Regions from separate parts of the Homo sapiens genome. Here region 2 is linked to region 1. Evidence: fine-mapped expression QTL. Tissue or cell type: whole blood. Region 1 holds a variant in brackets; the other region holds the start of a gene. All regions are shown on one strand. Distances are between the middles of the regions.

Region 1 (8,112 bases):
GCTGTCCCCTAGTGGCCTGGAGGGCTTATTACACAACCCAGCTCCATCCTTCCCCCAACTAAACTCCATTTAAATAGATGAGAATCCCAAGAGTAACCCTTTCACCCCACGCTCTCATCTGCCTGTTTAGGTAACCAGGTTCACCTTGACCATAGTGTCTTCCCTCACTACTCTATCCTATGCTGCTAGCATCCCTCTTTTTTACTGTGAAGCATGACATATGGTAGTCACTAGCCACATGTAGCTTTTTAAATTTAAATTAATTTGAATTAAATAAAATTTAAAATTCAGTGGCATTCATCAGTTCAGGACTGTCCTCCCAGTTCTACATTTGAGTCTGAGCTGACCTGCAAGACTGAAAGTCTTTGAGGACTGGAGTCTGTTCTCTACTCTATTTGTAGCCACTATACACCTAGGAGAGTGCTGGGCAGGCATGTCTTACTTTGCAAACACTCGAGGGGACTAACTTCCACCTCCTCTGCTACTTCCAGCTGCTTCTAATCACACTTTTAGTCCTCTCCTCCATTTTACACACACACACACACACACTCACTCTCACATACACACACTCATGCATACCCACTCCTCAGTAAGGATCAACTCTGACCAAAAAAATACACAACACATTAATGTCAGCTCAGTGAGTTACCCTTAAACACATATCTCGATATTTGGTAAAGCAAGTCTTCCTAATTTGTTTTTCTGCAAAAGTTTTTGGCTATTCTTGTTCCTTTATACTTTCATATGTATTTTAGAATCAACTTATCAAGTACCACAAAAAGAAAAAAAAATATTAGAATTGTATTGAGTCTACAGATCTATATGAGGAGAAATTACATTTTTCAGTGTTGCGTGTTTTTTGTTTTTTGTTTTTTGTTTTTTGACAGAGTCTTGCTTTATCGCCCAGGCTGGAGTGCAGTGGTGTGATCTGGGCTCACTACAACCTCCGCCTCCTGGGTTCAAGTGATTCTCCTGCCTCAGCCTTCCAAGTAGCTGAGATTACAGGCACCTGCCACCACACCCAGCTAATTTTTGTATCTTTAGTAGAGATGGGGTTTCACCATGTTGGCCAGGCTGGTCTCAAACTACTAACCTCAAGTGATCTGCCCACCTCAGCCTCCCAAAGTGCTGGGATTACAGATGTGAGCCACTGTGCCTGGCCTCAGTATTGAGTCTTCTAATACCATAAAACTACCACTCAGATCAAAGACTAGAACATTGCCCGTACTTCCTGAAGGCCTCCTGTGCCACTTCCCAATCATTACTTCCTCTCTCCTCCCCAAAGATAACCACTATCCTGACTTCTAGAAAAATAGGTTAGCTTTTTCCTTTTTTATTTTTGAACTTTATAAAAATTGAATTCTTTATTCTTTTTTCTCTCATGTCTGATTTATTTTGCTCAGTATTATCTTTATGAGATTCATATATGTCTTTGAATTTAGATATAATGCATTCTTTTTCATTGCTTCATAGAATATAAACGTATGAATATACTAGAGTTTATTTATCCAGTTGACTATTGATGGACATGTGGGTTATTTCCAGTTTGAGGCTATTATGAAAGTTGCAGCTGTGAACATTCATATGCAAGTCGTTAAGTGGACATGTGCACATATTTTTTTGGGTATATACCTAGATATACCTGGAAGTAGAACTGCTGAATCGTAGAGTATGCATACCTCCAAATTGACTAGATAAGGCCGAGCTGTTTTTCAAAGTGGGCGTATCCATTTACTTTTCTATCAGCTACATATGAGAGTCTCAATTGCTATGCCTTTTTTTTTTAAATTTTTTTTTGAGACAGAGTTTCACTCTGTTGCCTAGGCTGGGGTGCAGTGGCGTGATCTTGTCTTACTGCAACCTCCGCCTCCTGGGTTCAAGCCATTCTCCTGTCTCGGCCTCCCAAGCAGCTGGGATTACAGGTACGCACCACCACACCTGGCTCATTGTTGTATTTTTAGTAGAGACAGTATTTCACCATGTTGGCCAGGGTGGTCTCGAACTCCTGATCTCAGGAGATCTGCCCGCCTCAGCATCCCAAAGTGCTGGGATTACAGGCATGAGCCACCACTCCTGGCCTCAATTGCTATGCATTCTAATGAAAACTTGGTATTAACAGTCTAATTTTAGTCCTACTGTTGGATGTGTCTTATTATGCTTTTATTCCACATCTCTGTAATTATTAAGGAAGTTGAACAACTTTTCATATGTTTATTGGCCATATTAAAATTCTTTCTTAAAGTGCCCATTTAATCTCTTGCCCATTTCCCTTTGAGGTTTAGTCTTTCTTTTATGGACTAGTATATGCTTTTCATATATTTTGGATATGTGCCCTTTGGCAGATATGTTAGCAAATACCTTCACCCATCTGTAGCTTGCCTTTGGAATTTCTCAGAGATACCTACTGATAAAGAGAAGGTCTTAATTTTGTTGTAGACCAATTTAGTCTAGTCCTTTTTAAGCATTACTGGATTTTATTTGCTAATATTTTGTTAAGAGTTTGGTTTTCCACTTATGTTTCTGAGTGAAATTGGCCTGTAATTCTCTTGTATAATGCCTTTTTTTTTTTAAGAAGGCACTGCAGTGGCTGGTATATAGCATTCTTGTGAATATATCTAACTGGGATACAAGTTGAGGTAGAAATATTTCAAATGTCCTTAAAAAAATAAGTAACAGAGTTCTTCCTGGACTCTTCTTTAATCACAAGCCTCAGATTGATCCCAAAATGACACACAGCTACTCTACCTAATACCCACATCACGGTAAAGTTGGTCGCTCTCCTGTTAAAAATTCAGACTTTAAGAACTGGAAGGGACCTGGGTAGTCATGCCCAACCAGTGGGGTTTTGATATAAAGATTTATGCTAATTCACATAAGGAGTTGGGGTATATGTTAGTTTCCTAGGGATGCCTTAACAAATTACTGGAAACTTGGTGGCTTAAAACAACAGAAATTTATTCTCTAACAGTTCTGGAGGTCAGAAGTCCAAAATCAAGGAGGCACATCCTCAGGGCCACACTCCATCTGGAGGCTTTAGGAGAAAATCCTCTTTGCCTCTTCCAGCATCTGGTGGCTCCAGGCTCTCCGTGGCATTTGTTGGCTTGTAGTTGTGTATCTGCAATTTTTGCCTTCATCTTCACATGACCTCCCTCTCTGTGTCTTCTTCTTTTCCATCTCTTATAAGGACAGTCATCATCAGACTTCGGACTTATTCTAATCCAGGATGACCTTATTTTGAAATCCTTATCTTGACATCTGTGAAGACCTTTATTCAAATAAAGTCACATTTTGACATTCTGCCTGGACATATCTTTTGGGGCCACAGTTCAACCCACCACAGGGTGCATTTCCTTTTTGTTATTCTCTGCGATATTTGGGTAGGATGTCTTATTTCTCCCCTTAAATATTTGCTAGTAGAGCAAATTGCTAGTAAAGCTATCTGAGACTGGGGTTTCTTTGGTGGAAATTTTTTTAAGTTATATTTTTATTATTAAATTTTCTCCTCTACATATTAGTGAACAACTTTTTTCAGTCTTTTTAGTGGCTACCCTAGAAATTATAAAATACAACTTTGACTTACCAAAGTCTAAGGTTTACTTCCCTCCTGCATAATACTTCAAGTCCACAATAATTTCACCTCTTGATTTAAGTGACCGTTTTGTCATTATTTGAATTTCATATATATTTTAAACACACAAGACATAATTATTATTGTTTTATATATATAAATATATACTTAGACTTACCCACATTTTCACAATTTTCTTTGTTCATATTTGCGATGTCTTTATTATATCAATATAAAGACTGTAATAATGTAGACAATTATTTAAAAACTAACAATGCCTTTATTCTTATTTTTAATGGCTATAAAATAATCTTATAAAGAATATAATAACATGAAAATCACTAAACAAGTGTTTACTGTGTGCTAGGAACTCTTCTAGGACTTATCAGAGCTAGTATCTTGCAGAATTAATTCCAGCGGCCACCATTCACAAAAATTATGTGAAAATAATGCCTCTGGAGTTGCTTGTAAATGATGCTCCCTAAAGATGTACAAATCAGTGGTCCTAACAGAAGATAATAAGATACAAAAATATACTAACTTATTATATTTATGTTTAAAATAATTCCCTATGCCTGGATAAAAATCCTGAAGTGAACATTTAAGCACACACAGAGTCTTAATAGGACTAT[G/A]GGTGACTTCTTTTACATATTTTTCTCCTTTCTAAAACTTCTGAATTAATGTTAAAAATGTAAGTTATTTGCCTCCTTCTGCCTCTAGGTCAGGTTATGCTAAAGTTCTCCCAAACAGGAAGACCAGCAGAGGTTGCATCTGTTGATAAAGGTCTCTCTTCTTTTTTTTTTTTTTTTGGTGATGCGGAGTCTCACTCTGTCGCCAGGCTAGAGTGCTGTGGCGCCATCTCAGCTCACTGCAACCTCCAGCTCCCTGGTTCAAGGGATTCTCCTGCCTCCGCCTCCTGAGTAGCTGGGATTACGGGCATGCACCATCATTCCTGGCTAATTTTTGTATTTTTAGTAGAGATGGGGTTTCACTATGTTGGCCAGGATGGTCTCGATCTCCTGACCTCGTGATCCACCCACCTCAGCCTCCCAAAGTGCTGGGATTACAGGCGTGAGCCACCACGCCCGGCCAAAGGTCTCTTAATAAACTGTTTTGATAGCCTCTTTATCTCATCACTGCAAGAAATTCTTTCTTAAACTCAAAATTTCTTCAAAATGTATTTAAGAATTGTATGGGATCTTGAAAGCCATCTATCTGAACCACCCAATTACTGCTTGAATTATCTGCTACAACATTACTTCCAAAGTGTTGCCTAGCTCCTTTTTACTGAAATATAGTTTGTGAACAAGCAGCATCAGCATCACCTGGGACTTTATTAGAAATGCAGAATCAGGCCCTGCTCCAGATCTTCCGAAATAGAATCAACCCTTTAACAAGATCCCCAAGTAATTCATATGCATAATAAAAGTCAGCAGCACTGGTCTAGACCATGCCCAAGCACTTATAACTATAGGAGCTCATTGCCTGCCAAGGCAATTCATCCCACATTTGAACATCTTTTACCATTAGAAAGATCTTCATTATATTGAATCAAAATATTTTCCCCAAATCCTAATCTTGGTTTAAACCTGAGATACTTTATAGGCAAATTGAATTCCTTTTCTATATGGCAATTCATCAAATATATGAAGAGAAAAATTATGTCCCATCCCTTTTTCCTCCAATAAACTTTCCTAATTCCTTAACCCTTCCATCACATGACAAAATTCCAAGTTTTCTCGCATTAAAACACATGTGGTGTGGCTTCAAGTCTGGCTCTATACCCAGGGAGAGTGGACAGCAGCATTATCCCATAACCAGTGTCCCCAAAATGTGTTGAATTAATGACTTCCCTATTGTAAGTGATGGCATCCGCATCTTACAAGGATGTGGTCTCAATTTATTTTGAGGTCTTTGTCCAGGAATTGTGGATTTTAATTCGTTCAAAGTAACATCAACAAATATCAGCTGAAGAGTTTATTTTTATGTGTCCAATACTGTTCTGTGGGGAGTACAAAAATATATGGCTTATTTCTCAAGGAATGTATAGACTGGAGAAACAACACATAAATATATCAGAATGTTTTAAATATAGCATAGAGTGCCATAAAGTGTAAATTAGACTTTAAATACCTGAGGAATTTAAGTAAGGGATAGGTCATTATAAGTTGAGTGACCAAAAAAGAATAGTGATAGAAAGGACATGCACCTTAAGTTAAAAGAGCTTAAGGCAGGGGACTCCCGGCTTTGACACTTCTTGCTTGTACACATTAGGAAAACATTTGGTCTTTCTGAGCTGTAGCTTCATCATCGGTGAAGTGTGAGTAACAACAGTATTTAACACAGAGTGGTTGTGAGGCAAATGAGAAGACATATGTGAGGAGGAGGAAGAGTAGGAATGGCAGTGTGGGATGCAAGAATTCTGCATGTAGCCGGTGATATGAGTGAGACGGACTAAATTCTGTTGCTATTCTGTCCCCTCCAGCTGCCCCTGTAAGAGCCACACCAATTTCAGTTTCTTGTGAGGAAGACATTTAAAACATTTGAGAAGCACTGACAATGGATGAGGCTGCCTTGGGAGGTTGTGCACCCCAAGACGCCACTTGGGGAGTCCAAGCAAAGCCTGGGGAATTGAGTTCCAGAGAATTTGGGGGAGAATTCCCACCTGAGAAGGAGGTTGGACCAAATGACTGGAAGGAACTTTCTGCCTCAAGTCTTCTTGAGTCTGTGCTTCTCTATCGGAGAGTTGGGTGAGAACTAGCTCTCTCTGTTCAGCTAATCTGCTTTCTTTGCTTCTCTTGTAGCCTCTTCAGAAGAAACTTGACTCCTTCCCAGCTCAGGACCCTTGCACCACCATATATGTTGCTGCCACAGAGCCTGTCCCAGAGTCTGTCCAGGTGAGGCATCTCTCTGCCTACTCTCCGTAGAGAGGGAATACATGAAGGAGGGGAAAATGAGGAAGTTTTTTTTTTTTAAGGTGGGAAGAGGGAGAGGATCAGGGAAAATAGCTATTGGGCACTAGGCTTCATACCTAGGTGACAAAATACTGTGTATAACAAATCCTCATGACACAAGTTTACCTATGTAACAAACCAGCACATGTACGCCTGAACTTAAAATAAAAGTAAAAAAAAAAAAATTAAAACAAAAACAAATTAAATGAAACAGATTGATGAGTCCTGGACTGGGGAAGGGAGGCCACAGCATGCAGGCAAAAAGGAGTCTCTGTGGCTTTGGTTTTCCAGTTTCCATGAAGCCCCCAATACCTGCTCACACGGGGCCACTGCTAACCCCCTGCTGGCCAGTGTTTCCCTGAGAGTTGTCCAAGGACCACATCAGAATCAGCCAGCGTACTTGTTAAAAATAAAGATTCCTAGGGACTTCCACCTAGGATTCTGTTAAATGAAAATGTCTATGGAGAGTAGCCATAGACCTACGTATTTAAAAAACCCACACCCCAGGTAATTCTGATACACACTCAAGTTTAAGAACAGCAGCTGGAGTCCAGGAGTTCTCAACTCCAGCTACAAAACAGAATCACCAGGGAAGCATTGTAAAAATGCTCATGCCTAGACTCTGTGCAGCCCCATTTAATCAGAATATTTAGGGGTGGAGATCTGCATAGGTGTTAAGCCTAGAAGAGAATATGGGGTGCAGCTCAAAATGATACTTGCATATTCTACCCTATTGCAAGATCAGCAGGGACTAAGTTTACTTCGGACAGGAATCTTTCCTTTACTGAATGAATAGAAATAAATTCTGGGCTGAAATCTTTGCTCCATTTGGGCTCTTTCAGAAGAGAGCCCAGGATGATAGAGGCACAAAGGTCACACAAATGCCTGCATCCACCTTATTTTTCAAAGCTCCTACCGCACACACACTCATCCAGAAATGCCTGGGCAGGTGCCCTATATTTCAAGATGAAACCAATCTTCAACTTGAGGTCCATTCTCACTTCACTGTCATATCTAAGAAGGAAGTAAAAATATAAACCTGACTTCAAAGCTTCAAAAAAATACATAGATTTTTAATGAAGTTTACTTAAGGACAAAAACAGTATGCTATAGTTAACATTTTATGGCAAAACCCTTAAATTCTATTTTCTTTGTTTCTTTGACATGAGAGATCTTTGCGCATAACCCTCTTCTCCCCTTCCTCTCTCCTGCCAATACCACTTTTCTCTTCTCCCTTTGAGTCCCACTAGACTTTTTAAAAACTCAATAATTTACAACTCTCTTGGCTTCCCAGATTGTGACCCATATGTAACAGCAAAACAAATGGTTTTCCTTACAAGGGGATGGAAGGGGAGAGGGCAAAGAGGGAGACAGGGCACTGAGTGCTGGTCCTCAGATCATGCTCCCCATAATAGCATGCTTATGCTTGGAAGGGAGCTGTGGCCCTTGTTGCAGGTGGAGAAGCAGTGTGGGAACCCAAGTGCTGTCCCAGCAAGGCCCTGTCTGTGACAGACCCTGCACAAGCCATGATCTCTAAGACCCTTTCCTTTTCCTCAGCAGTGCTGTTTTCATTTGCATTCTGTGAAGTGA
Region 2 (8,112 bases), 33 kb before region 1:
AGGCATCCAGGGAGTTCAATAGCAAGATTTCCTTCCTCCTTATTCTCTTGAGTATTCATGGTGATACTCACCAGGAAAAAGGAAAGAGCTCTGATCAGTGTCAGGATTCCCAAGTTTGGTCCAGATCCTGCCTTACAAACACCACCAGCTCCTTTGCAGGGCTGTTAGGAGGATCAAATAAGGCTGTGAATGTGAAGGCTTTTGAAAATGGCTTTGTAACTACAAGGCACTATCACCTGTATATCTTCTGTTGTTGGTCTGTTGACATCTGCTCTTAATAGCTCAAGGAAGCAGCTCAGTATACTAAATGTACTAACTGCAAATCTCTGGTTAGTCACATTGCCCCTCAGGTCCTGTATTAGTTTCCTGTGGCTGCTGTAAAAAATTATCACAAGCCTGATGACTTAAAACAACAGAAATTCATTCTCCCACCGTTCTGTAGGCACAAGGTCTAAAATTAACATATTGGCAAGACCTGCTCCTTCTGAAAGCTCAAGGGGAGAATCTTTCTCTGCCTCTTCCAGCGTCTGGTGGTCTCTGGTGTTCGTTGAATTGTGGCTGCATAGCTCTAGTCTCTGCTTTGTCTTTTCACATGGCCATCTTCTTTGTGTCTCTGTGTGTCCTTTTTCTATTTCTTAGAAAGATGCACTACTCTCATTGGATTTGGGGATCACTCTGATTCACCCAGTATAATCTCATCTCAATTCTTACCTTAATTACATCTGAAAGATCCTGATTCCAAATAAGTCCACATTCTGACGTTCCAGGTGAAGAAGAATTTGGGGGCAGAGAGGACTCTATATAGAATCCACTCTAGAACCTCAGAACCTTCATCTAAACCATTTCTGACCCTCATTCAATGTATGTTTTTATTTAGTTCTAGATTGCACCAAACAGGAAAACTCTTCATATAGTGCCTAGCATTAGCTCAGTTATCTGTGTAGAGGGGATCCAGGAGATCAGAGTGGAGAGGCCTCATAGCGAGTCTAGAGAAGGTCTAATTCTGGAAATGAGAGGAAGGGCAAAGTAAACAAGAGAATAAGTGTCTGTCTTTGAGAGAGGAAGGTTTGACATGAATAGACAGCATGCATTCCAGGAGCCGTGCAGCTTGAGGAGAGAACACCAGTCTTGAAATCAGACCTGGATCATTGGTTTCCCATTTTTACAGGATGCCAATATTCTCACATCATTTAGTTATTTCAACTGATATTTTATGAATACGTAGACAGTATGCCATTCACTCCACCATTTGGATTCTCAGTTATTGTAACAGTGGTGTGTTGGTAAATGGTTAAGAGCCAGATCTCTGAAAAATAATATATGCATATATGTAAATGAGCTTGTTATAAATTTTGCTTATACGAAGAATGTGTAACACGCAATTTATAAAATAAAATTTATTGTATTTTAATAAAATGTACAATCCTCTTTATTGTAAATTCCATATAGCCACAGATCTCACAGGCTGTTTGCTTTCATATTGGCTTAATTCATATCCACAGCCAAACTGTGTTTACAAGTGACAAAGGAATGTAGTTCCAACATGAATGTTGGTTAATGTCTTTTTTGAAGTTAAAGAAATGTGAAACAACAAAAACATATGTTGGAACATCACTTGCTCATCAGTGACACTAGTGACTTTTTGCTGAATCAGATGATAGTTTTTGAATACTGGAAAAATGTTTCCTCAATTTTTTATGCTAATCCTAATGTAAGGGCCATAGTCATGGCACATGTTTAAGTTTACTCTGCATCATTATGTTTTCTCTATTACTTTCTTACATTTAGACAATCAACAAAACAGTAAAGTTCTGATTTATATTGCTTGCTGATTTCCATGGCATAAACTCTCACCATGGCCAGTTTCAAGCTCCCAACACTATGCCATTGAATGCAGAGTGGGGAAGAGAGGTCCAGAAGCACCAATGTTCCAGTATTTAATTTCCACTGTAGACACATAAGAGATGTCAATTACCTCAAGAACATAGATATCAGTAATGTCATAAAATAATTAAGAAACAATGAGCTTTGAGATTTTATTCCCTCTATTTAATATAATTTATTTAGTTGTGAAGTTTTTTTTAAAGGCAGGGTTTTGCTCTGTTGCCCAGGCTGGAGTGCAGCGGCTATTTACAGGTGTATTAGTCCACTCTCACACTGCTATAAAGATACTACCCAAGACTGGGTAATTTATAAAGGAAAAAGGTTTAATCGACTTGCAGTTCCACATGGCTAAGGAGGCCCCAGGAAACTTACAATCATGGTGGAAGGCAAAGGAGAAGCAAGGACCTTCTTCACATCACAGTAGGAGAGAGAAGAGCAGCCAAGAGCAGAAAATACTGCCTTATAAAACCATCCAATCTTGTGAGAACTCACTCACTGTCTTAAGACCGGCATGGAGGGGAAACTGCCCCCATGATCCAATCACCTCCCACCTTGTCCCTTTCTCAACACTTGGGGATTATGGGGATTACAATTCGAGATAAAATTTGGGTGGGGACACAGCGGCAAACCACACCAACAGGCATGATCATGATAGTCCGTTTTCACACTGCTATAAAGATACTACAGCCTCAAACTCTTGGGCTCAAGGGGTCCTCATGCTTCAGCCTCTCAAGTACCTGGGACTACAGGCATGTACCACCATGCCCAGCTTAACTGTAAGTTTATATAATTTAATTTAATTTTATATGTTTAATAATGGCCATGTTCATCAAGCACCTCACAAGATTCCTGAAAATCTATTTTTTATTTTTATTAAAAAAAATTGTTTGTAGACATGAGGTCTCACTCTATCGCCCAGACTATTTTCAAACTCTTGGCCTCAAAAATTCTCCCACCTAGGCCTCCACAAATGGTGGGGTTACAGGCGTGCCACTGTGCCCATCCAGATTCCTGAAAATTTAACAATTTTATGAGTTGGTACATGCTGACTCGAGCACACACCACTGGGAATAGTTGTGAGGAGGACAGTTGAGTGCTGGGGAAAGGAAGGAAGAAAACAGTGAGGATAAAGTTCACATATCTCACCAGCTTTTATTACCTGATCCCCATGGGGAGGCCCATCAGAGAGTGCCTATGACCTGTTACAATGGACTCTAAAAACACTTCCCTACTCTTTCAAGTCTCCCTGTGAGCATTGGTTACACTTCCAGTATCCCATTCTTATAGTTTAACTCATGAAAAAGGGCGGGATCCTCCTTCTGCCAATACTAGTTCCTTCTCCTCAATGAAAAGTTAGACACAAACTCCAAAATAAAGGCAACTCCCAGAATACAACACAGCCCCAATTAAATTAAAATGGCTTTTATCCAAAAGACAGGTAATAACAAATGCTGACAAGGATGTGGAGAAAAAGTACCCTTGTACACTGTTGTTGGGAATATAAGTTAGTACAACCACTGTGGAGAATGGTTTGAAGGTTCCTCAAAAAACTAAAAATAGAGCTACCATATGATCCACAATCTCACTGGTAGGTATACACCTAAAAGAAAAGAAATCAGTATATTGAAGAGATATCTGTACTCCCATGTTTATTACAGCACTATTCACAATAGCCAAGGTTGGAAGCGACCTAAGCGTCTATCACCGATGAGTGGATAAAGAAAATGTGGTACATATACACAATGAAGTACTATTCAGCTAAAAAAGAATTAGATCCTGTCATTCACAATGACATGGATGGAATTGAAGATCATTATGTTACGTGAAATAAGCCAGGCACAGACAGACAAACTTTGCACGTTCTCACTTGCTTGTGAGAGGTAAAAATTAAAACAATTGAACTTGTGGGCATAGAGAGTAGAAGGATGGTTACCAGAGGCTGAAGGGTAGTGGGGGTTGGGGAAGAAGTGGGGATGGTTAATGGGTACAAAAAAATAGAAAGAATGAATAAGAACTAGTATTTGATAATACAACAGTGTGACTATAGTCAATAATAATTTAATTGCACATTTAAAAATAAAAATATAATTGCACTGTTTGTAACACAAAGGATAAATATTTGAGGTGATGGATATCCCATTTACCCTGTGTGATTATTACATATTGCATGCCTCTATCAACATATCTCATATACCCCATACAAATATATGCATACCCCATACATATATATATACATACACACACACACACACACACACACACACACACACACACACACACATATATGTATATCTACTATGTACCCACAGACGTTAAAAATTAGAGGAGAAAACACACACACAACAAGGAGACTGAGCTGGAAGGATGGAGCTCTGGGATAGATTTGTCCTACATCCCTGCCTGGGAGGGAATCCACACACATGCAAGAAGACAAACTAGGAGCATGGGCTACTAAATTATACCACATTGCACTCATCGGGGTCACAGGGTTTCTTCCAAGTGACCCGCACATGCCCTTCCCATCTCTGTGTGACAGTGGCACCTGCACCAGACTGCATGTTGAGGTGTCATCTGAAATTATGAAATAAAACAGAAGTAAGAGGTCTATTAGCTCATCAAAATGCAGTTATCTAAGTTCAGCTGTGAACTGCCAAATTTGAGGAGTGATCCAATGAAACATCTTTTCTTTGCAATCCAAGAAGACTTACCGGAGAGAACTGCTCAGAGAATCTGCAACATCCGGTTCCTGGAGACAGCTAAGGAAAGAAGCTGGGGCGCATGTTTCTGCCCAAAGCCGGGTTTTGGCCGAGGTGACTACACACCCCCTTTCCTGGCTCCCATAGGCTAAGTGCCTGGCTTCTTGAGAAGCCTGCTTCTTGAGAACAAAAAAGTGATTTAAAGCCTCATGGGAGATGAGCAATCCTCAAGACACAAGCAGAAAAAGTCCCAGTGATACAGGAAGCGGGTTCAGGAACCTGCTGGTTCCTGATACATAAATCAGACAGCCTCTGCTGCATGACACGAAGCTTGCTTCTGCCTGGCATCTGTGAGCAGCTGCCAGGCTCCGGCCAGGATCCCTTCCTTCTCCTCATTGGCTGATGGATCCCAAGGGGCTCCTCTCCTTGACCTTCGTGCTGTTTCTCTCCCTGGCTTTTGGGGCAAGCTACGGAACAGGTGAGTGTTCATCTGCCTGATGGTTTGAGTCCCATGTTAGCTGCCAGGAATCAGCGTATCTTCGTGGATGGAGAGAAGGTGCAGGGCTGGGTATTGTGTTTGGTCACTCTTCCTTAGGGACTGGCTGTCAGTTTCAACTGCCTCTTTCAAAGAGGAAGGAACATTATAAGTTCCTGGGCCCTTGGGTTTCCAAGACTCAGCCCCACCAACCCCAGTTTCCAAGGAAATGAGGGGCTCTAAGCCAAAGGCTCCAGTCACTTTTCTGACCAGTCTTAGGGTGACAGGCCCTGGTAGAAGTCTTGCTTGAGTGGTTGGTTTTACATGGGCATCTTCTGGCAAAGACCCAGCCTAGAGAGACTGAGCTGGATGGACTGAGCTCTGGGAGAAGATTTGCCCTACATCCCTGCCCTGGGAGGGAATCTGTGCACATGCAGGCTGACAAACCAGGAGCATGGGTCAACAGAAAGCATTGGCTAGAGTGGGAAGAGAGAGTAGAAGTGAAAACTCCAGGCTTTTGGCTGAGAACCAGCAGTGGCCACAGTGCGGTCATACTGGTGTGTATTTTCTTGGAAGAGAAGGTCCAAGAAAGCAAGAGGGAAGAAGTTGGGATTTCTGAAGGCTAGGGCTGGTTACAGTATGTGGGAAATGCAAATTGGGAACCCTCAGAGAGTAGCTCCAGCAGGAAGGCCAGACAAGAGCTACCTTTGGATCTGGACTCTGTTCCTGTCTTTCTGTCTATCTTCTTCCCAAGGCAGGCTATTGCTTTCTGTTTAGAAGTATCAGGGCTATGAGAAAAGGTATTTGAGAAAGAAAAAGCCAAGCAAGAAGTGGACTTTGGACTGCCTGTGTGAGTGGGGTGAGAATCTCCTTCTGCTTATTTGTTTAGACTGTGGGAGGTAGCCTGGAGTAGAAGAGGTGGCATTACGGACACGGGGGGAAATCCTGAGGCCCAGGGTGTTTTAAGCTTGGGGTTTTCAAGACCGCAAATCCAATATGGACTTTTCCAGGAAAAGCACCGTGATATGCCAGGGATGTGGGGGTGCTGCACAATGGATGTGTCTTTTACCAGACAGCCAGACGAACAGGGCTTGCTCAGCCCACTTTCTTTTGGAATCTGCAGATCCATGGCTCGTACTTCCCAAGGTCTAGGGGAGGAAGAACTGAGCTCGGGGCTCAGAAAACCAAATCGAGCCACTTTAAGTGGTCACAGGGAAAGCCAAGCCTCCGTTGTTGCAACCAATTTGTGACTGCACCATTTCTGGAGCACCTCTTGGTGACTGTAAGGTGTGATGGAGTGATGGTGCTGAACTGTGAACTGGACTTTTCCATCTCTGTGCTTGCTAGCCTCTTGGCCAGCCTGGCCCATAGCATCTTAGGCACTGCTGACCAATAGCTCGTCTTATTGAGGCTTTGGAAGTCGCCGGTCAGGGAGAAGCAACCCAGCCCCACAAGGCAAGTCTATCCAATCGGAGGCTGCTCACTTCATTGCATGTTTTCTTCTTTGAATCTTCACAAAAGTTTTTCAGTGTTTTTATTTTTAAATACACACCCTTTTGTGAAGCCCCAATAAAACCCAGACAGAAATGCTTTGCAAATGGGGCAGGTTAGTCATGACAGATTTGCCCAAGCAAGAAGCTTGATTCTTGTAAAACTGGCATCCACTCCCATTCTCATTTCTACTCAGCTCAACTTCTAATTCCCAGTCAGAATTGTAAAAATCAAAAAGTCCACATGTCCCTTCCCCAAGTAAAGTGAATTTTTCATTTCCCCCGATGAGATTTGTTTTAATAGACTTTATTTTTTAGAGCAGTTTTAGGTTCACAGCAAAGTTGGGCAGAAAGAACAGAGATTTCCCATATGCCCTCTGCCCCATACATACATAGCCTCCCCTATTATCAATATCCCCCACCAGGATGGTACATTTGTTATAATTGATGACCTTATGTCAATGAGTTTTTTTTATTCCTCCATGCAGTTCCTCTGCACCCCCTTCACACACTTTGGGGGAAGGTGAGGGACAAGTGCGTGGGTTCTAGACTTGGCCTAACCTTGCGTGTTCAGTGGCCCATTCTATCCCAAGATGTCAATCTAGGCACTTCTATTTCTCAAAAATATTAATACTGTGATGTGATGCTGTCACTTTCACTGTCTCCCTCACTGGACTGGAAATCAGAGTATCAGGGCTAATTGGTTTAATCCATAGATTTGACTTTGAATGATCCCATTCAGCAACTATTAAGGACACATGATGTGGCAGCCACTGTGCAAGGGTGCAAGGTGTGGGGAAAACAAAATGAACAACAGCCACTGCCCAGCACCTGACACTGTGTCTGTACTGAGAGCCTGTCCACAAATATTTGTTGAGTGAATAATACTGGTATATACTGCATACTTGCCATATACCAGGCACTGTTCTAAATGCTTTATGTGTGTCAGTCATTTCATTTTCACACCAACCCTATAAGAAATGTATGTATTATTGGTACCATTACAACTTTATAAATGAGGAAAGGGGCACAGAGTAGTTTAGCAATTTCTCTGCGCTCACATAGCTGCCTGACTCCAGAGGCCTCAATGAGTAAAACTGGACAAGCCTATGTTTGGGAAGCAGGGGTGGAGAGAATGCCAAAATTTGTATCCAGGTCCCATGGTAAAAATTAGAATGTGCTATCTATAATTGAAAAATATGAGTTGAATTGAATTGGAATAAATTGAAGTATAGAAATGTCCAAAAGGTGAGAGACTGATAAAAATCACAGAAGAACGTAGAGGGCATATAAGAAGTATTTGACCTGGAATTTGGAAAATGAAAACTTTTTTTCATCATGCAAATGTTCATTTAATTTTTTTTTGTTAACTAGTTTGTTTATTGATTATCACATCTATAAAACATGTCATGTCTATGAAACTTCAACAGTACACAAGAGTATTTAGTGAAGACTAATTTCCCTTCCATACCTCATGCTGGAGGCAACCACTGTGACCAGTTTCTTGTGTGTCTTTCCAAATGTATAGGTCTTCGTGTTTGATAGATCAGTACGGTGACTATAGTTA

What was found. PIP is the estimated chance that this variant, and not a neighbour inherited with it, causes the effect.
Region 2: SLAMF1 starts here. The variant in region 1 is fine-mapped to the expression of SLAMF1 in whole blood (TOPMed, PIP 0.91).

Annotation. Positions count from the first base shown.
Region 1 is chr1:160,610,841-160,618,952 of GRCh38, reverse strand. SLAMF1 (signaling lymphocytic activation molecule family member 1) reads left to right here. Exons shown (of 7, transcript NM_003037.5): 6 at 6,373-6,465. Among named protein-coding and RNA genes, the nearest start is that of SLAMF1, 32 kb to the left of the region's middle. The variant G/A (reference allele first, on the strand shown) is at 4,201.
Region 2 is chr1:160,643,816-160,651,927 of GRCh38, reverse strand. It overlaps SLAMF1 (signaling lymphocytic activation molecule family member 1), which reads left to right and starts at 4,884. Exons shown (of 7, transcript NM_003037.5): 1 at 4,884-5,058. The coding sequence starts at 4,983. It overlaps LOC107985220 (a long non-coding RNA gene), which reads right to left and starts at 4,919. Exons shown (of 2, transcript XR_001738266.2): 1 at 4,593-4,919; 2 at 1-4,455. RefSeq lists enhancers at 4,753-4,802, 4,843-5,052.